Linked DNA regions of Homo sapiens: region 1 is linked to region 2. Evidence: fine-mapped expression QTL. A gene starts in region 2. The other region holds a variant in brackets. All regions are shown on one strand. Distances are between the middles of the regions.

Region 1 (9,838 bases), 22 kb after region 2:
GTGAATGGGGATTTTAGTCACTATCAAATGTATTACTGACTTCTACTCACTAATGTCTTTGGTAAATTTTGGAGTTATCTTTTTTCTTTATTTTTTGAAACTGAGTCTTGCTCTGTTGCCCAGGCTGGGGTGCAGTATGTTGATCTTGGCTCACTGCAACCTCCGCCTCCTAGATTCAGGCGATTCTCCTGCCTCAGCCTCTCGAGTACCTGAGATTACAGGCACACACTACCACACCAGGCTAATTTTTGTATTTTTAGTAGAGACAGAGTTTCACCGTGTTGGCCAGGCTGGTCTCGAACTCCTGACCTCAGGTGATCCTCCTGCCTTGGCCTCCTAAAGTGCTGGGATTATGGGCATGAGCCACTGCGCCCGGCCAATTTTGGGGTTATCTTTAATCTCCATTGAGTCCCAGAGGACAAACACATTGCCTTCTTAGAAATTTCAGACATACATTAGATTTCCTGGAATGTAAGAAATACCATCAGAATGGCTGAGAGGGCATTCCTTCTCTCTTTAAGTGCGGGTGCAAGTCCAGACTCCTGGGTATCGTGAGTTTCCATATGACAGTGTCCCTGAAACACGTGGCTCAATGCCCAGGACACCACTCCAGGGTCACCAGATGCAAGTGACTGGCCCATTGTGTCACTTAGGCCCCAGGAGGCCCATTGACTCATCCCAGTGGACACACAGGCCAGGGGCCACATACCTGTCCTAGGCTGCCTCTCAAGTGAGCTACTGAGCTGCCCAGCTCTGCCTGCGTCACTGCCCTGTGGCCCCAGGTGCTGTCCGCTGCCCTCCAGCCCTTCCTGTGTGCTTCCCCTTTACCCTGTTCTCACTGGGGTCCAAACCCCACGCAGCCTGTGCCAATCAGAGGCCAAGCCTGGGCTCCAGGTCACAGTGAGACGGAGCCCACATAAGGGTTCAGGAGGCAGTCACTGATGTGGCTGTGGGGGTCCTCGGGTGAGCAGGACCCCGCCCCAGCCTCCCCAACCTGGGGAGGTCAGAGCTCCTGTCTGGTTGAGGCAAGGGCTGTGGATGCGGGGTGTGGCCAGCAGTGCAGTGATGCTAATGAAGGGATTTTCTAATGAGTTTTGTATAGATTTTCATTTTTAATGAAGGCAGGGAAGGGATAGGGCAGATCAGAAATCAAATCTTATTTACAAGAATCCTCTTAATAGTGATATTTAAAAGATGCAAAAAACAGGGATCACTGACCACCTGGTTTGTCTGTTGTGTTAGCCAGCTCTTTTTTTTTTTCTTTTTGAGATGGAGTCTGGCCCTGTCGCCCAGGCTGGAGTGCAATGGCGCAATCTCAGCTTGCTGCAACCTCCGCTTCCTGGGTTCAAGCGATTCTCCTGCCTCAGCCTCCTGAGTAGCTAGGAGTACAGGTGCCTGTCACCATGCGTGGCTAATTTTGGTATTTTTAGTAGAGACGGGAGTTTCACCATGTTGGCCAGGCTGGTCTCGAACTCCTGGCTTCAAGTGATTGGACGCCTCAGCCTCCCAACATGCTGAGATTACAGGCATGAGCCACTGCACCCAGCCAAATTCTCTTCTTTTGAAGTGGCTTTCTGTGAGGCTCACCAGCTGAAGTAAAATCAGTTTTTGTTCATTCAACAAATCTTTATTGGTTCTTGATGCTCAGGAAGAGGCAGGATGAAAGCCATGAGCAGGCAGGCAAGCCCAGGCCAGCCCTCCTGGCAGCAGTCGAGGGTGTGAGGCCCTGAGGGTCCATAGGGCCCAAAGGAGGGGGTATCAGCTCCCTGAGTGGGTGAGAGGCTCAGAGAGGACTGCAGGGAGAGGCCGACCTCTCCGCAACCATGGGCTGTAGCCAAGCAGGGGTTAAGCAGCCTGCAGCTTCAACAAGGACGTGTTTGGGGTGGTCAGAAGATGGCAGCTTTGATGTTTTCCCATCATGAATCATCTTGACTCTAGGTCTCCACCAAGGCCCGACATTCCTTGGGATCCAGATCTAAATCCACCTAAAACTTTGGATTAGATTAAACCCACATGTCCTTCAGCGTCTTTTGGAGGAATCTGGACACATCCAGTGAAACCTAAAGCAAGTCCCAAGCTGACATTTTCCAGCCCAGCATTTCTCTAACCCCTTCTTTATTTTGCAAATCTCACTGAGAGCCTGCTAGGTGCCAGGCTCCGTTCTGGTGAGTGGGGATCAATCGGTGAACGAAATATGCAAGTCCCCTGGCCTCGTGGAGGCGGCATTCTATAGGGGATGCAGAATGCAAAGAAAGTAATAAGTCCGTCTGATGGTTTGTAGGAAGGCAGGATGTGCCGTGGGGGAAACAGGGAGGCATAGGGGCTTCTGCTCATGGTGGGTTTATAATTTTAGAGCCGTGGGGTTGGCCTCACTGTGCCAGGACCTGAATGGGGCGTGGGCAGTATGGAAAGTGGGAAGAGCATCCCAGGCCGAGGGAACAGCCAGCGCAAGAGCCCAGAGGAGAGGGTGTGTACAGCAAGGCGGCCAGGGTGGCTGGAGTGGAGCCAGCAACGGCCAGTCCCAGGGAGGAAGCACCAGATACAAGGGTAACCAGGTGGCTGAGGGGGCCATGAGATAGAGGCTGGGGTGTTGGGGGTGAGCCTGAGGCAGCTGGACACCCTGAGGTGCCTGGGACACTTGATTGCTTCCACCTTTTGGATGTTGTAAATAATATTGCTGTGAGGCCGGGCGCAGTGGCTCACGCCTATAATCCCACCACTTCGGGAGGCTGAGGCGGGCAGATCACTTGAGGTCAGGCGTTTGAGACCATCCTGGCCAACATGGCAAGATCTCATCTCTACTAAAAATATAAAAAATTAGCTGGGCATGGTGGCAGGTGCCTGTAATCCCAGCTGCCGGTGAGGCTGAGGCAGGAGAATCACTTGAACCCAGGAAGCGGAGGTTGCAGTGAGCCCTGATCGCAACATTGCACTCCAGCCTGGGCGACAGAGCAAGACTCCATCTCAAAAACAAAACAAAACAAAACAAAAAACAACAACAAACTGCTGTGAACATGGGTGTGCAAGTATCTGTTTGAAACCATGCTTCAGTTCTTTGGATATTTACCCAGAAGTGGAATTGCTGGGTCCTATGATTATTCTATTTTTAATTTTGGGAGGAACTGTGCTCCACGGCAGCTGCACCCTTTTCCATTCCCACCAGCAATGCACACGGGTTCCAGCATCTCCACATCCTCACCAACACTTGTGATTTTCTGGCTAGCCAATAGTTTTTGAATGGATGCACGCATGGCTGGTGGCTCGCTCTGGCAGTTTAGTGAAACGCCGTTATTTGCAAATCCACCGAAAGCATGAGTGAAATGTGTGCTAGCTCAGCTCGGTAATTCCATCCTGGAGCCTGAAGGCAGTTTTGAGACACACGGGCAGCCGGGTTCAGACCTCCAGTCCCCCAGGGAAGGTTGGGGGAAGGTGCACTGGCAGCTGCCATTTTTGTGCAGAGGTGGCCTGGCTGGCAGTGCAGGGAAGCTGGGGAGGCCCCCACCCTCTCTCCTGGAGGCACGAGTTGGGTGGCTCTTCCTGCCCTTGCTGGCTTTGGCTGGAGCTGGGGTTATTTTGGGTCTGGTCAGGGGCCACCCGTGACACACTCCTCTCCTGCTCATTGCCTTTGGAGCCCGCCCACGCCAGCCCCTAGCTGTCACAGCCTCATGGTTGTGTTGGAGGAGCTGATTTTGGCAGGTCGAGGACCTCTCCCCAGAGCCCCGGCAGGGCTGGGAGGTGTGGGCTTTGCAGCTAGGTGCCACTGCAGCCACCATCCCTCCCTCTGGGGCCTTGGGCAGGCTACCCAACAGGACTCTCAGAAGCTGTTTGCTCTGAGCCTGGAAGATGGAACGAGCACTGAGAAGAGCTTGACCTGATAAAGGGGTGGAAGGTTGGGCCCAGAGTCAGCCCCCCGCCGCTTTTTGGTTTTCAAATCAGCAGGAACATTGTGCGGGTGAAGCCTAGTGCTCAGAGGAGTGACGCGGCCACTCTGGTGACAAAACTGGGCCTCCTGGCTCTGACTCCAGACACCATACTACATTCTGTCTTTCTTTTTTTAAAAAAAGAGGCCAGGCATGGTAGCTCACGCCTGTAATCCCAGCACTTCGGGAGGCTGAGGCGGGGGGATCACCCGAGCTCAGGAGTTCCAGACCAGCCTGGCCAACACAGTGAAACCCCGTCTCTACAAAAATAGAAAAGTTAGCCAGGTGTGGTGGCGCATGCCTGTAGTCCCAGCTACTGGGGAGGCTGAGGCAGGAGAATCGCTTGAACCCGAGACGCAGAGGCTGCAGTGAGCTGAGATCACACTACTACACTCCAGCCTAACTCCATCTCAAAGAAAGAAAGAAAGAGAGAAAGAGAGAAAGGGAAAGAGAGAGAGAGAGAGAAAGA[A/AAGAG]AAACAGAGAGAAAGAAAGAAAGAGGAAGAGAAGGAAAGAGAGAAAGGGAGAAAGAGAGAGAGAGAGAGAAAGAGAGAAAGAAAGAAAGAGAGAAAAAGAAAAGAAAAGAAAGAAAGAGGGTCTTACCATGTTGCCCAGACTGGTCTCGAATTCCTGGGCTCAACTGGTCTTCCCACCTCATCCTCTCAATGTGCTGGCATTACTGGTGTGAACCACTGTGCCCGGCCAAGCCTTTCTAACTAAATGCTAATTGAGCTCCTTCTGTATGCCACTGGGGCACTGTGTATTTCTCTCTCTGTGTCTGTGGGAGCAGGGAAGGGGAGGCTCAAAGGTGAGAGCACCCCCACCCCCGAGGATCTCGTGCCCTGGGCCCCCTGCGCACAGAGCCTTGGCCCAGCCCACCCCTCACCCACAGGATGGTGCAGGAGCAGTGCTGCCACAGCCAGCTGGAGGAGCTGCACTGTGCCACGGGCATCAGCCTGGCCAACGAGCAGGACCGCTGTGCCACGCCCCACGGTGACAACGCCAGCCTGGAGGCCACATTTGTGAAGGTGAGAGCCAAAGACCATGTGGGGTCGCTGCCCGTCCCCACTAGTCGGCAGACCCAGGCCCTCCCAGCCAAGCGGCACTGTCTGTCAGCGCTCCCTGCCTCAGGCCACCTTTCTTTGTGAGCAGCTGGGGGTTCCTGGGCCAGGAGGGAGGTGGAAAACCCCACTGTTTCTCCCCCTCCACTGTAGCCGTAAACCCCGGAGGACACCTGGGGCCGAGTCTCCCACGAGGCCGGGGGGTGAAGTGAGCTGGCCTTGCCCTGAGAACCGCCTGTCTCCAGGCATTGGGCAGATGCAGAAGTCAAAGCAGGGCTCCTCCTGGGCTTCCAGAATCTTCTTCTCAATTCAGGGTCGGCACCCTCACCCTACCCAGGAGGCTCTCAGGCTTCTCTACCCACAGACTCGTCAGGGTCCAGAGGTAAAAATGGGCCCTCACTAAGACCTCTGATAAGATCTGACCTCTATAACGACCCTAAAAGAGGAAACTGAGGTTCAGAGAGGCCCAGCCTCCAAAATGGCCTCTCTGCAGTCCTGTCAGGGACCCAGACGGGATCCTGCCCTGAAGGTAAGCTGTGAATAAATGGCATAGTCCTCTTCCCTGAGTGCTCCTAGGACCCTACGTGCTAGCAGGTCACTCAGGACCGCTATGGCCGTGGAAGGGCTGTGTCTTTGCAAGAGGTGGAAAGGTGCCTGACAGCATTGCCTACAGGCAGTAAACCCAAGGTGTCCAGGCCATCCCTCCCTTACCACCCAGCCAGCAAGGAAAACAAGCCCGGCCAGGAGGAACTTGGGCCTGGAGGAGCTCGGGTTTGGAAGCTGGGCTTCTGTTGGAGGTGCCAGATGACGAAAATGCATTCCCTGGAAGAAGCTTCCCGTTCCTTTTAGGAAGGTGATGGAATAATTTTAAGAAACAAGAATCTGAATGAAGTCTGGATTCCAGGAGAGGGTGTGGGAGCTCCTTTGTGGGGATTCTCCACATAGATTGGGCTGTGGAGGGACTCCGTGTGGAGGAGTTGGGGGTCCCGAGTCCCCTGCCCACCTTGGCCTGTGTGGGCTTTCACAGGGCAGGGCTCTGGCCCAGGAGAGAGCTGGGTGGGGTGATGGTGGGGGTGCCTGGGAACCAGGACTTTGGGCGTTTCATGACTGCCCCCGCACCCTCCCACCCAACACCCAATGCAGGGCTGGGCCTTGCAGATGCCGTCGGTCCGGCACACAGCTGTGCCCATGTCCCCAGACTTGAGAGGTGTGGAAAAAGCACAGAACATTCTAGCAGGAGTGGGAACAGATCTCTCTGGCAGATGAGCGACTTGTGTTTCCAGGAAGGATTACTCACACCCCAAAAGATGGATGAGGTGACTGATGCTCCCTACACTTTCTGGCAGCGGAGGGCGTAGAATAAGCAGCCTGGAAGACCCATCAGTGCCACATAACTGAGGCAAAGCTACACCTCCTGGCTCCTGCTGGGGACTGTTTAGAAAGTTCTGTGCTCCTCTTAGGATAACCACTTAATAAAGACTGAAGCAGGGCTTTTCGTGTGTCAGGGCAAATGTTGCTTCTGGGACTCAGGTGTGAGGCCACAGGGACTTGGAAGTAACTATTGGGACCTGGGCCCAGGTGGCAGACAGCCACCCTGTCCTTTGACCTTGCTTGATGACTCGTCTTGAAGTTCCTGTGCTTTCAAATGCACGGTGCAATTCCTGCTGCCAGAACCCCTCTAACTCAAAAACGGAGAGGCAGCATGCATGTGTGTCATTTTTCCGGGCATGGTAGAGAAATCTCAGACCATGCAAAAGGAACAGAACTTTGGAGCTGGTGCATGGTGCTATAAGAAGCTCCCTCTTCCTGGATGTGTGCGAGCAGAGCCGGGTGGTCTCTGGGCGGGGCAGGGATGTTGAGGGGTGCAATTGCATGTTGGGGTGGGGAGGGGAGGTGGATGCCAGGCCCTTTAAGCTTCCTTTCAAAACTGGGACCTAGATGATTTGGAGTAGGGGGATGGCCTTGCTTTGCTATTTGTTGCTGACATTTAGAAGTGGTATCTAAGCCAGACTTGAGTCATCACTCTACAGGTTGTGTGGACAGGGGGCTCAGAGAGGCCTCCCCTGAGGCCTCTCGTGGACCCCGCTGGGCTGTCTGCCCGCTCCTCCATCTGGGATCTCCACCTGTGTTTGCAGAGGTGCTGCCATTGCTGTCTGCTGGGGAGGGCGGCCCAGGCCCAGGGCCAGAGCTGCGAGTACAGCCTCATGGTTGGCTACCAGTGTGGACAGGTCTTCCAGGCATGCTGTGTCAAGAGCCAGGAGACCGGAGATTTGGATGTCGGGGGCCTCCAAGAAACGGGTAACTTTCCCCCTTCCTTCCCTAATGAGCAGTGTATTAAGGTTCTCCGGGATGTGTATATAGAGCGAGAGTGGAGAGAGAGAGATTTTAAGGACTTGGCTCATGTGATCGTGGGGCTGGCAAGTCCAAAATCTGCAGGGCAGGCCTTCAGGCTGGAGCCCCAGGGAAGGAGGGGCATTGCAGCTGGAGTTCAAAGGCAGTGTGCTGGCAGAACGCCGCCTTTCCCGGGGAGGCCAGTCTTTTTTCTCTGAAGGCCTTCTGCTGATTGAGTGAGGCCCACCCATGGTATGAAGATGATCTGCTTTTCTCAGCATCAACAGACTTACATGTTAATCTCTTTTTTTTTTTGAGACAGAATCTCTCTCTGTCACCCAGGCTGGAGTGCAGTGCAGTGGTGTGATCTTGGCTCACGGCAACCTCCGCCTCCCGGGTTCAAGTGATTCTTGTGCCTCAGCCTCCCGAGTAGCTGGGATTACAGGTGTACACTACCACACCTGGCTAATTTTTGTATTTTTAGTAGGGATGGGGTTTCACCATGTTGGCCAGGCTGATCTGGAACTCCTGACCTCAGGTAATCCACCTGCCTCAGCTTCCCAAAGTGCTAGGATTACAGGTGTGAGCCATCGTGCCTGGCCAATATTAATCTCTAAAATATAGCTTCACAGCAACATCCAGGCTAGTGTTTGACTAAATATTTGAGTACCATACCCCAGCCCAATTGACACTTACGATGAACCATTACAGGTAACACGTGCATCCGTGTCACCATTGCCTTAACTCAGCACGGACTAACTCCGGTTGTCGGAGCCATTCATGTTTGTGACCTTATCTGAAAGCCGCTGTCCTGGAGTGACGCTGAGTGCTTGGAGTCTGGGATCGGACAAATCTGTGCTCCCATCCGGGTCCTAATGTGTACCTTGGTCCCCTCATCTGGGAAGTGGGGATAGTTGCAGTCCTACTTCATCAGGTGCTGGGAGGATGGAGTGCGAGATTGGGTGTCAAGGGTTGGGTAGAGCACCTGGCCCCATAAATGTCTGCCCTCACCATCTGCCCTTGTCCCTTCAGCTGCCCGGGGCAGCATGGGTGGCTGGCCTTGCTCCCACTTCTTGGGTGAGGGTCTGATGCTGAAGATCGCACAGCCGACACGTGGAGGAGGGAGAGCCTGGCCTTCCACCTCCTGGCCAGTGCCCTCTCCATCTGGAGCTGACGATGTATGGGCGAGCAGCTGGGGGCCATCGCTGGCTAATAGCTGGCTATGCTCTGTCAAATCATAGACACTTACTCAGCAAAGGGGCATGTGACCCCAAGAGCAGCTTCAAGAGCGCTCTCAGCTGTGTGCCCCCCCGTTCTGTGTCCTCGCCCTGCATTTCTGTGTGGTTCAGTTACAGGGTTCAGGAGACTTTGTGGCTGTCCAGTAGCCTCTTACACTTAGGCCACGGTTTCTTGTGCTGTAACAGAATTAACCTGGAAGAAGGCAGGACTCCGCCTGGGCCAAGCTTGCTGTGTAGTTTTCGGCCTGTTCCCTCCTCTCTCTGAGCTTTGCCCCCACTCTCTTAAAAAATAAAAGAGGTGTGAGCTGGGCACGGTGGCTCACGCCTGTAATCCCAGCACTTTGGGAGGCCGAGGCAGGCGGATCACCTGAGGTCAGGAGTTCGAGACTAGCCTGGCCAACATGGGGAAACCCTGTCTCTACTAAAAATACAAAAATTAGCTGGGCGTGGTGGCGGGCGCCTGTAATCCCAGCTACTTGGGAGGCTGAGGCAGGGAGAATCGCTTGAACCTGGGAGGCGGAGGTTGCAGTGAGCCGAGATGGCGCCATTGCATTCCAGCCTGGGTGACAGAACGAGACTCAGTCTCAAAAAAAATAATAAAATAAATAAAGAGGTGGGGAGGTGCCGGAAGGGGCGAAAGGGAAGAACCCTCAGACCTGTAGTCTCTAAGTCAAGGTAATGGCTGTAGGGTCCTGGGTGACACGGAACCTTTCACTTCTTGTTCTTAGGTTTTCAAGTCCAGGCTGTAGGGCCCCTGGTCACAGAGGACCCGGGTCACCCGGGACTCATCTTTCACTTATTGTTCTTAGTTTTTCAAGTCCAGGGCCCCATGGATGCCACTGAGATGATTTCAGATGTTACAGTCATCAAGAGGGATTGGGGCCGCATTCTGCCTCATTCCTTGGCTTTTGAAATCAGAGACGACATTTTCACTTTAAACAAACCCAAACCATTCCTGCTGGTGGAGGATTTCTCCTGCATCTCGGGGGTGGATTTTCACTGATTTATGTCTGCAGCGTGAGCAGTCTCTGGGCTTTTCTGCAGCTCCAGATGTTAGATGTTTTATCTCTCCGTCTTTTATCTGCTTCAGTCCTTGCCCCAGACTATCCTCGCATGCTCCCTCCTCTGGGAGGGCTTCCTGTCTTCACAGCCGCACCTTCCTCCCACTGCTACCAGTGCCATGGACCCACTGTATGTTTCCTGGGGGCCATGCAGAAGGTCCCCAGACCAGTGCTGGCCTGCGACAAATAAGTACAGAAATGGAGAATAACCCTTTTCAAACACATAATAGCATT
Region 2 (9,838 bases):
GGGGGTCAGGACTGGTGCTCCCCTGTGTGGTCCTGAAGGCACATCACTGTCACCACCAGCACAGCAGCTGACAGTGATTACATTACAGAGTTTTCTCTGTGGGGCTTATGTGATGAGAGTCAGCATCTCCTTCAATTCTCACGACCGTGCAAAGTGCAAAGTCCTAATCCTTGCCCCACGTGACAGATGAGGAAACAAGGTACCAAGAAGTCAAATGCTCAATGCCACAGAGCCAGAGAGTAGCGAGCTTGGATTGGAACCCAGGTGGTCTGGCCTCAGACCCTGTCCCAGGCTGTCAGGACCTCTAGCTTGTCCTGGGGGATAGGGGTCCATGGTGGTGCCTACTTCCCTGACACCCAGTGCCTGGCTTTCCAAGTCACCAGCCACAGGGACAAGAGGATGTGGAGAGGCCATGGAGGACAGGCCTGGGATGAGGACTAGAGTGAGTGCCTAAAAAGGGGGCGCCTTGGCTGGGCGCCACGGCTCACGCCTGTAATCCTAGCACTTTGGGAGGCTGAGGCAGGCGGATCACAAGGTCAGGAGTTCGAGACCAGTTTGACCAACACAGTGAAACCCCGTCTCTACTAAAAATACAAAAAATTAGCTGGGTTTGATGGTGTGTGCCTGTAATCCCAGCTACCCCCGAGCCTGAGGCAGGACAATTGCGTGAACCCGGCAGACAGAGGTTGCAGTGAGCCAAGATCGTGGCATTGCACTCCAGCCTGGGTGACAGTGTGAGACTTGCCTCAAAAAAAAAAAAAAAAAAAAAAAATGGTGGGGGCTGTGCCTCAGAACAGGAGTAAGCTCTTGAAGCTTCAGGAAAGGCTGGGAGAGGCCAGGTTTCCATGTCCTCTCTCCTGGCTCTGGCCTCCCTCCCCAGCTGTTGCAGGCTTGGCTCAGCCCTCCTCCTCCCAGCAGTCCCTCTGCCTGCCTAGGGCAGTGTCAGTGCCTAGCTGAATGTAGGAGTCACCTCCTCCTACTGTCCCTGTTTCCTCATCCCCACCCCCTTCTCAGCCACCCACAACACAGCCACTCCCTCCCCATCCCCAGAAAGGGCCCCGGTCACATCGCCAGCGGCCACCTGCTCCATCCCCATTGGGACTTCTCAGTCCTGGCTTCACTGAGCACTGGGCCACACTGGGCAGTCCCAGCCAGAATCACTTTTTTTTTGCTATCACCCAGGCTGGAGTGCAGTGGTACAATCTTGGCTCACTGCAACCTCCGCCTTCAGGGTTCAAGCAACTCTCCTGCCTCAGTCTCCCAAGTAGCTGGGACTACAGGCATGCACCACGATGCCCAGCTAATTTTTGTATTTTTAGTGGAGATGGGGTTTCATCATATTGGCCAGGTTGGTCTCGAACCCCTGACCTCAAGTGATCCACCCACCTCGGCCTCCCATAGTGTTGGGATTACAGGCATGAGCCACCACGCCCTGCCCAGAATCACTTTTTGATTCCTTCTTGGATATTGCCTTCTCCTGGTTTCCTTCTACCCCTCTGCCTGTTTCTACGTCTTCTTTCTGAATCCCCCAGGTCCCCTGGTTCCCCCTTCGCCCTCCACCACCTTCCCTTAGTCATCTAGACTCCTTCCAGGGCACCCCATTCTCCGATGGCTTAAACGAATTAAGTTAATACCAAAGTAGTAATGAGTTCCCAACCTGTTCCAACTCAGAAATGCCTCCCTCGGGCCATCTGCTGATGTGCTGTTTCCGCACCCCACCCCATCCAAAGTCAAAACGGACCAGGATCTCTGGTGCCTCCAAACTTTTGCAGAGACATCAGGAAAGCTGGCACCACCAAGGAAACCCTTCCCACCTCTGCTCACCTTTCACTGGCCAGTCGCATGTCACCTCTTCCTGAGGGGCCTCCTTAACCTCAGAGGCGTGAGCATGCTGGTCCCCTTGGTAAGCTTTCCTGGGCTCTCTGCAAACTTCAAACTTATAAGACACCCTGTGGGGAGATGAGTTCTTGTCCTTTTGTTTTTCATTTTAAAATTTAACATGTGACCGGGCACGGTGACTCACGCCTGTAATCTCAGCACTTTGGGAGGACAAGGCGGGTGGATCACCTGATGTCGGGAGTTCAAGACCAGCCTGACCAACACGGAGAAACCCCGTCTCTACTAAAAATACAAAATTTGCCAGGCGTGGTGGTGCATGCCTGTAGTCCCAGCTACTCAGGAGGCTGAGGCAGGAGAATCGCTTGAACCCGGGAGGTGGAGGTTGCAGTGGGCTGAGATTGCGCCACTGCACTCCAGCCTGGGCAACAAAAGCAAAACACCATCTCAAAAAAACAGAAAGAAACAACATGTATTCAGAAAAGGGCACGTACCATAAATGAACAGCTCAATAAATTCTCACAAACTGAGCCCAACCTTGTAACCAATACCCAGAGTAAGAAAGCTGAACCTAACCAGCCCCCGAAAGCCCAGCACGCTCCCACTCCAGGATCACCACTCTCCTGACCTCTGAACTGTTCTTGCCTTTTTTTTTTTTTTTTTTTTTTTTTGAGACGGAGTCTCACTCCGCCGCCCAGGCTGGAGTGCAGTGGTGAGATCTCGGCTCACTGCAACCTCCGTCTCCCGGGTTCAGGCGATTCTCCTGCCTCAGCCTCCCGAGTAGCTGGGACTACAGGTGTGCACCACCATGCCTGGCTAATTTATTTTTATTTTTATTTTTAGTAGAGACAGGGTTTCACCATGTTGGCCAGGCTGGTTTCGAACTCCTGACCTCAGGCAATCCGCCCACTTCATCCTCCCAAAGTGCTGGGATTACAGGTGTGAGCCACCGCCACCGGCCTGTTCTTGCCTTTTATGTAAATGGAATCATGCAGCGAGTGTTCCTTTGTGGCTGACTCTATTACTCTGACTTACGTCTGTGAGATTTACCCGTTATGTGAGTTGCGGATCATTCACTCCTGTTCCGTTTGTCGTGCTCCTAAGCCCGAATACTCCACGATATTCATCTGCCTTGATGACGCTAGGCTTCCCAATTGGAGGAATTATGAATGTGCGGCTACATGTCTTTCTGTCTTTTGGAGCACATGTTGTATGCGTTTCTGCTGAGTGTAAGGCTGGGCGGGGCGTCGGTGGCTCAAGGGGTCCATGGTGAACTCACAGGAACACCGCTTTGAGCTGCCCAGTGGCGTTCCTATGCGTCTCATCCAGTTCCTCCGCATCTTCACCTGCACCATTTTATTCTTCTTCTTTGGAAAATAAATCTACTTGTGGTTCCAAAGCCTAACTCATCCTCAGTAACCCCGGTAGCTATGAATTCCTATACAAGAGGCTCCCGCAGGCCCAGCGCCAAAGCTGCCTCCCCTGCAGCCTCGGTGACTTCCCGGGTCTCTCCCTCCGGCCCTGGTGTCCCGGGTGAGCCCAGCACACGTTGGGATTTTGGTTGTTTGTTGGCCTGGCCCGACTGTCCCTGTCTCTGAGGGCAGAGTCGGGTCCCATCCCGGGACACGCCTGGGGTTAGCCACCGACCTGCAGCCTCCCGGCCGAGGGTGCGGGGTTGGCGGTAAGGCCTGCCCCAGTGCCCCCCAGCAGCCGGGCCTCCGACTGCAGGCCCGGGTCCCCGCTCCTCCGCGCGGAGTCGGGCGGGGATAACCTTTGATCCCGAGCCCTCCCCTCGAGAGGGGGTGGGGGGAGGAGGGGATCGGGTTTCACGGAGTGTTGGGGGATAGGACTGGGGGCATCCGGCCCGAAGGCGCCCCCTCTGTGCCCCCTCCGGGGAAGTCTGGGATCCAGGCCCTCGCCCCCAGCCGTGGGCGCGCGCCCCTCGCAGCCGGGGTCCGGGGAGGGAGGGTCCCGGCAGGGGGCGCCGGGGAGGGAGGACCAGGAGACCCGCGGCCCCGCCTCCGCCGCGCCCTCCTCCCGGGCGGGATAATTGAACGGCGCGGCCCTGGCCCAGCGTTGGCTGCCGAGGCTCGGCCGGAGCGTGGAGCCCGCGCCGCTGCCCCAGGACCGCGCCCGCGCCTTTGTCCGCCGCCGCCCACCGCCCGTCGCCCGCCGCCCATGGAGCGCGCCGCGCCGTCGCGCCGGGTCCCGCTTCCGCTGCTGCTGCTCGGCGGCCTTGCGCTGCTGGCGGCCGGAGGTAGGGGCGTCCCGGGTCCGCCGCCCCAGCTTAGGGTCCCGACCCCCTCGGCCTCGCGCTCCCTGCGAGTTTCGGAACCACGGGGACTCGGAGTCCGTGCGTTGCCCTGCGCGGCGCCCCCGGACTGTCAGCGCCGAGGCCTCGGCGACGCCCCCCTCCCCCACGGCCAGCTCCGGTCCTCATCTCCTCCCCGGCCTGGGGACTTGTTTCAAAACCGGATTCCCCCACCCCTCAAACACACCGTCCTACCCCAGTCCTAGCAAATCCAGCCGGCTCCGGGGGCCGCATCCCGGGCCCTGGGGGTTCAGGGGCGCTAGCTGGGCTGGGGGACGCTGGCTGGGGGTTACCGAGCCCAGGGCGCCTTGCACTTGACGCTGGAAGCGCCCTCGGCTATCTTTCCTCACCGCTTCCCGCCTCCACCCCCAGGTAGGAGCTGTTGTACCCAGCTTGCGGATGTGAAACTTGAGCCTGGAGGGTGGGAAGCAGTCTTTTCCCCAGGAGACACTAGCGGTCCTGGGATAGGGGCTGGAGAGGAAGAAATGAGAAAGCCAGGGAGCAGCCTGGAGGTTTTTGGGGCGTAGCTGGGAGGATGGAGGGGATGCGGACCTGGCCACCTCCTCCCTGCCTCCCTCCCGGGACAGAGGGCCCAAGGCAGTGGTTCTGCCGGGCTCGGTGCTCAGCGGGGACTGGGGACTGGTCACTTCCACCAACGGCAAGGGGGATGGAGTTTTCCAAGAGCAGATCTGATCGATGGCCCAGACCTTAGGCCCCAACTCTGGGACTGACAGCTCCGGGACAGTGCCCACCCAGCCCGCGCTTTTCTCCCCTCTAACCCTCAAGGCCTGGTCCCTGGGGGGACTGCCACGAGGTCCTCTGATCAGAGCAGCTGCTGGGCGGCAGAGCTATGACCTGTGACCTCTCTGCTGACCCGTGGCTTCTCAGAGCCACTAGCCAGGCCCGGCACTCCTGGCGTCTTTGTTTCTCCAGTGGCCCAGGTCCAGGGGAGTGCCCTAGACCACCCTCAGAATCCGAGTCTTAATCCCTGGTTTAGTTGAGTTCCTTTTAACCTCTGGTGACCGCCTTTGTTAGTCAAAAGGTCGCTTGTCCCAACTAATGCTCACTGGGGGATTCCAGGAAGGGGGCTGAAGGGGGCTGGAGGGGGAGGGGAGGCTGGGAGCTGAGCTCTACAGAGCTTTCTTGACTGGCTGGCTGCAGCAGAGCCCTGTGGAGCTCTGATTGTTCAGGCGGTGCTGGGCACGGCCTGGGCACCTCGTGGGGTTGGAGATGGTGTGGGGAGGCGCAGAGCTCAGTGTTGGCACCAGGAGCCTTCGCAGCCCCTGGGGGCTCCCTGGAGGCTCTTTAGAAGAGATGGAGCTTGATGTAAGGGGAGCGCGGGAAGAGGGCATTCCAGCAAGCAGCAGGCCGGGTGGCTGCCAGCTGGAGGGAAAACCCCGAGGGGCCCTGGGTGATGGGTGGGTGGGACATCCGAGACTCCTGTTAGAAAAGGAAGGAGCCTCAGAGGCCCCGATTGTGTCGATGAGGAAGCTGAGGGCCTGAGAGAAGGCGTGGTAAAACTCTCCCTGGCCCCGGAGTCTCTGCGTTCCCTCTCACTGTTCTTTTCTGTCTGCGGTTTGCGAACAATTTCTCCCTATGTGTGTGTGACTGAATGAACACCCCAGGACTTGCGGGCCCAGTGTGGCTCACTGCTGAGCCACAGAGAAGTTTGTAATTGGAAGGGTTTAAAAAAGCCTCCTAATTGCACACTTCGATAAAAGCAGCTGGATGTCCTGTGGGCCTTTTGTTTCTTTTGGGGAGAAGTCTCTTTGAGTTTCAACAGGTTTAATTTGGTACAGTTTGGGAAGGGGCTTTTGAAGACTGCCTGGCCCCTATCTGCAGCTGTGAGGCCCCCGAAGCCCTGTATGTAAGGCCACAAGTGGCACCGCCCCTGCTCTCAGAGAGCTGTGGGGCCGCAGATGGTGAGCCTGTTAGCTGATCTGCAGAAACTCCTTTGGCGACGGCCGCTTAAATGGAGAAGGGCGCTGATCTTTCTTGCCAAACGGCCGAGAGGAGCCGCCTGTCTGTCCTGTGTCTGTCCGTCCCGTTGGGCTTTACTGAGAGCTGGGTGGGAGGGAGTGGAGAGGAGGAGGTGTTAGGAAAAGACGATTGTGTTTTCTCCAAGGCTTTCTTGGCCTCTGGCTGCAGCCGGGCAGCGTTTCCGACTGATTAAAAGAAAGTTGGGAGGGAGAACAAAGGCCAGGGAGGACTTGGCTTGAAAACGTGTGGTCTGTGCCGCCACTCCTGGAAGTTTCCCAGTCAGGAGGTGGGGGCCAGGGCACTGAATGCATGAAGATGAGACTCTGTGCCATGGGGGTCAGGGCTGGGGCCTCTCCTGCAGCACCCACAGCTCTGGCTCACGCCCCGCTCCTGGCCCTGCTGAGTGCCCCCCAACTCAGGGCTGCATTTGCCACCCCTGTTAGGTGTGTAGGGCAGGAGTAGGGGCACGCGGCTGACTCATCTTCAGGTCCTGGAGGGCTCCACGGGCCTTGTGAGACTAGAAATCAGTTTGCATCAGAAAAAGCCATGAGATGGTTTGGTGGTTTTCTCATTTATAAAATGAAGGGAACAAAAACCTACTTAGGTTGTCTTGAGGATTAAGAGAGAGAACATAGGATAGTGTCTACCATGGCAGCTATATTATTATTATTATTATTTTATTTTATTTTTGAGACGGAGTTTCGCTCTTGTCGCCCAGGCTGGAGTGCAATGGCATGATCTCGACTCACTGCAACCTCCGCCTCCCGAGTTGAAGCGATTCTCCTGCTTCAGCCTCCCCAGCAGCTGGGATTGCAGGCGCCCATCACGCCCAGCTAATTTTTGTACTTTTAGTAGAGATGGGGTTTCACCATCTTGGCCAGGCTAGTCTCGAACTCCTGACCTCAGGTGATCCACCTACCTCGGCCTCCCAAAGTGCTGGAATTACAGGTGTGAGCCACCGTGCCGGCTGGCAGCCCTGTTATTAATGTTAGCTATTATTCCTGTTGTCCCCTTCTCTAGGAAGTGTTGGCACCAGGAGCCTTCGCAGCCCTTGGGGGCTCCCTGGCGGCTCCTTGGAGGAGATGAGGCTTGATGTGAGGGGAGCGCGGGAAGAGCGCAATTCTGCCAATACCCCAGAATTGTTTTCCCCAAGATGCCTCTGCACATTCTACTACTACTGAATTTCCCAGCCAGGCGCTGAGCAGAAGGCCCCATGGGGCTATAGGACTGGTAGTCGTCAGTGCCAAACCCGTGTCAGGAAAGGTGGTGTTCTTAGCCATTCAGTCATTCATTCACTAAGGGACAGCTCAGTGCCAGACACTGCTCTATAACTTGTGGATGTGGCAGGAAAGGAGAGAGACCCAGTTTTTCCCCCTCATGCAACTAGGAGATCCAGAAAAATGAACTGAGCCCTACTGGCAGAGTCAGGGAAGACTTCCCGGAGGAAGCGGCATGCAAACTGGGAACCTAAGGAGGAAAAGGCAGTGGCTAAGTCTGTGGGTAGGGCTGGGAGGATGGGGGAAAGGGTGTTCCTGGCAGGGGAAATGGCAGGGCCAAATACCTGGAAGGAAGAGAAAACACGAGACTTCCAGGGAAACCCCCTCCTTCTACCCACTTCCAGTTCCTTCCAGTTCCACCCCCTCCTCACCACTGGGGGAGACTGTGCTGTCTAGAGACTTCTCCAGCAGCTTCCCTGACCTGGTGAGACTTTAAGCCCGGGCTCTGAGCACTGGGCACCTGGTCAGGGCCGCCTTCCAGGTGAAGTTTATTAGAACAGTTCTAAGAGGGCATGTAGTTATTTTGCCAGCATATTTTATACAACAAGATTTTCCTTTTGCAGAATAGCAAATCATAACAATTTGATGAATGAATCCTTTCGTAGGCCCCATATGGTTCCAGTTTCCTTGTGATGATCTCACATGTGGCCCTATAAGTAAACAGGGTGGGAGGGGGGAACCACTGTGTCAACTTCCCTGGGATAGGAGACCCCCTCAGGCTGGAGGGGAGCTCAGGACTGGCTAAGTCATCTGCCACAAGTCACCCAGCGAGGAGCGGGGCTGGGGCTGGGCCTAGAGCTGGGCTGGGCCCCACCTCCTTTAACCCCACAGTGGTCCTAACTAGAGGCTGGGGTGGGAGGGAGCGAGGCACCAGTCGCCATAGCTTCCTACAGGTTATTTGCGGGTTACTACACTGTGCGGAGCCAACATGAGAAGGGGGTTAGGAAGCTGTGTGTTGGTCCCAATTCTGAAAGTGTCTGGAGAGATCTTGATGACACCCACAAACTCTCTGCCTCTGTTTCCTTCACTATAAGATGTGAGTGTCCTCTGGGTAATTATTATAGGTGAAATGCTTTACATTTAGTAACCAATGTCGTCATCTCAGCAGCCCTACGAAATAGGTGATCCAGTGTTGTTTTGAACCTATTTTTATTTTTTATTATTATTTTTGAGACGGGGTCTCACTCTGCCGGCCAGGCTGGAGGGCAGTAGTGTGATCTCGGCTCACTGTAACCTCCACCTCCTGTATTCAAACCATTCTCCTGCCTCAGTCTCCTGAGTAGCTGCGACTACAGGCATGCGCCACCACACCTGGCTAATTTTTGTATTTTTAGTAGAGATGTAGTTTCACCATGTTGGCCAGACTGGTCTTGAACTCCTGACCTCAAGTGATCCACCTGTCTCGGCCTCCCAAAGTGTTGGGATTACAGGCGTGAGCCACTGCGCCTGGCCCTGTTTTTCATTTTGGATCCTGTTACCCACTGGAGTGAAAAGGTCCTGTGAGTTTTGCTACCTAGGTATGAAGCCCGGCTTCTTGTTTTGGCCTAGAACTCCTCTATGGACCTGCACAGTGCCATTTCTGAGAGTCACTGATGCGTGTGATAGGTTGAGGATGGAAATCCAACACCTGTGCACCCAGCATGGTCTCCCCACAGCACGGGGACTCGAGCACCTTCCTGCCCCACCCCTGCCCCAGTTCACCTGTGTTACCTAGCTATACCCTCACCCTAGCCCTGCAAAGGAGGTGCTGTCATTGTCCCCCTCATCAATGAGGGGACATGGAGGCCCAGAGAGTCCAGGTAGCAAGACTGTGGGTGCATAGCTGCTAAGTGACAGCAGCAGGACTTGAGCTTGGGCAGCTTGGCCCTGACGTCATACCCCTCACCAGCACACTGGACAGCCTCGCGTATCTTTTTTTTTGAGACGGAGTCTTGCACTGTCTGGGGTGTGATCTTGGCTCACTGCAACCTCTGCCTCCCAGGTTCAAGCAATCCTCCTGCCTCAGCCTCCCAAGTAGCTGGGATTACAGGTGCCCGCCACCACGCCTGGCTAATTTTTTGTATTCTTAGTAGAGACGGGGTTTCACTATGTTGGCCAGAGTGGTCTCTAACTCCTGACCTCGTGATCTGCTCACCTTGGCCTCCCAAAGTGCTGGAATTACAGGCGTGAGCCACCGCGCCCAGCCAGCCTCACGCACCTTTAGAAGACTTGAATCTTTAAGTCTAGTTCAGGGGGGGATGCCTGTTTCCTTTGGAGTGTGATGGTGGGGTGTGTATGAGCTTTACAGTCAGAGCTGGATCTGAAGCCTGCCTCTGCAGAGGCTGCATGGCCTCGGGCAACTTGGTGATTCTCTCTTTGCCCCCACTTTATAGAATACCTAGGATCATGTGAGATCATTTGTGCGTTCATTCATTCACGGACATTTATTGAATGA

Alleles and levels. Alleles are on the strand shown, and positions count from the first base shown. SD is a standard deviation of normalised expression in the study named.
With allele A in place of AAGAG in region 1, the expression in prefrontal cortex of the gene that starts at base 3,912 in region 2 is lower (moderate effect, 0.43 SD a copy in ROSMAP).

What was found. PIP is the estimated chance that this variant, and not a neighbour inherited with it, causes the effect.
Region 1: its variant is fine-mapped to the expression of FBLN1 in prefrontal cortex (ROSMAP, PIP 0.93).

Annotation. Positions count from the first base shown.
Region 1 is chr22:45,520,738-45,530,575 of GRCh38, forward strand. FBLN1 (fibulin 1) reads left to right here. Exons shown (of 17, transcript NM_006486.3): 3 at 4,806-4,941; 4 at 7,110-7,272. Among named protein-coding and RNA genes, the nearest start is that of FBLN1, 23 kb to the left of the region's middle. RefSeq lists enhancers at 3,510-4,061, 7,802-8,352. The variant A/AAGAG (reference allele first, on the strand shown) is at 4,390.
Region 2 is chr22:45,498,972-45,508,809 of GRCh38, forward strand. FBLN1 (fibulin 1) reads left to right here and starts at 3,912. Exons shown (of 17, transcript NM_006486.3): 1 at 3,912-4,093. The coding sequence starts at 4,015. LOC105373066 (a long non-coding RNA gene) reads right to left here and starts at 2,016. Exons shown (of 3, transcript XR_938305.2): 1 at 1,825-2,016. RefSeq lists enhancers at 287-923, 4,526-5,139, 5,140-5,753, 5,754-6,367, 6,368-6,981 and 1 more.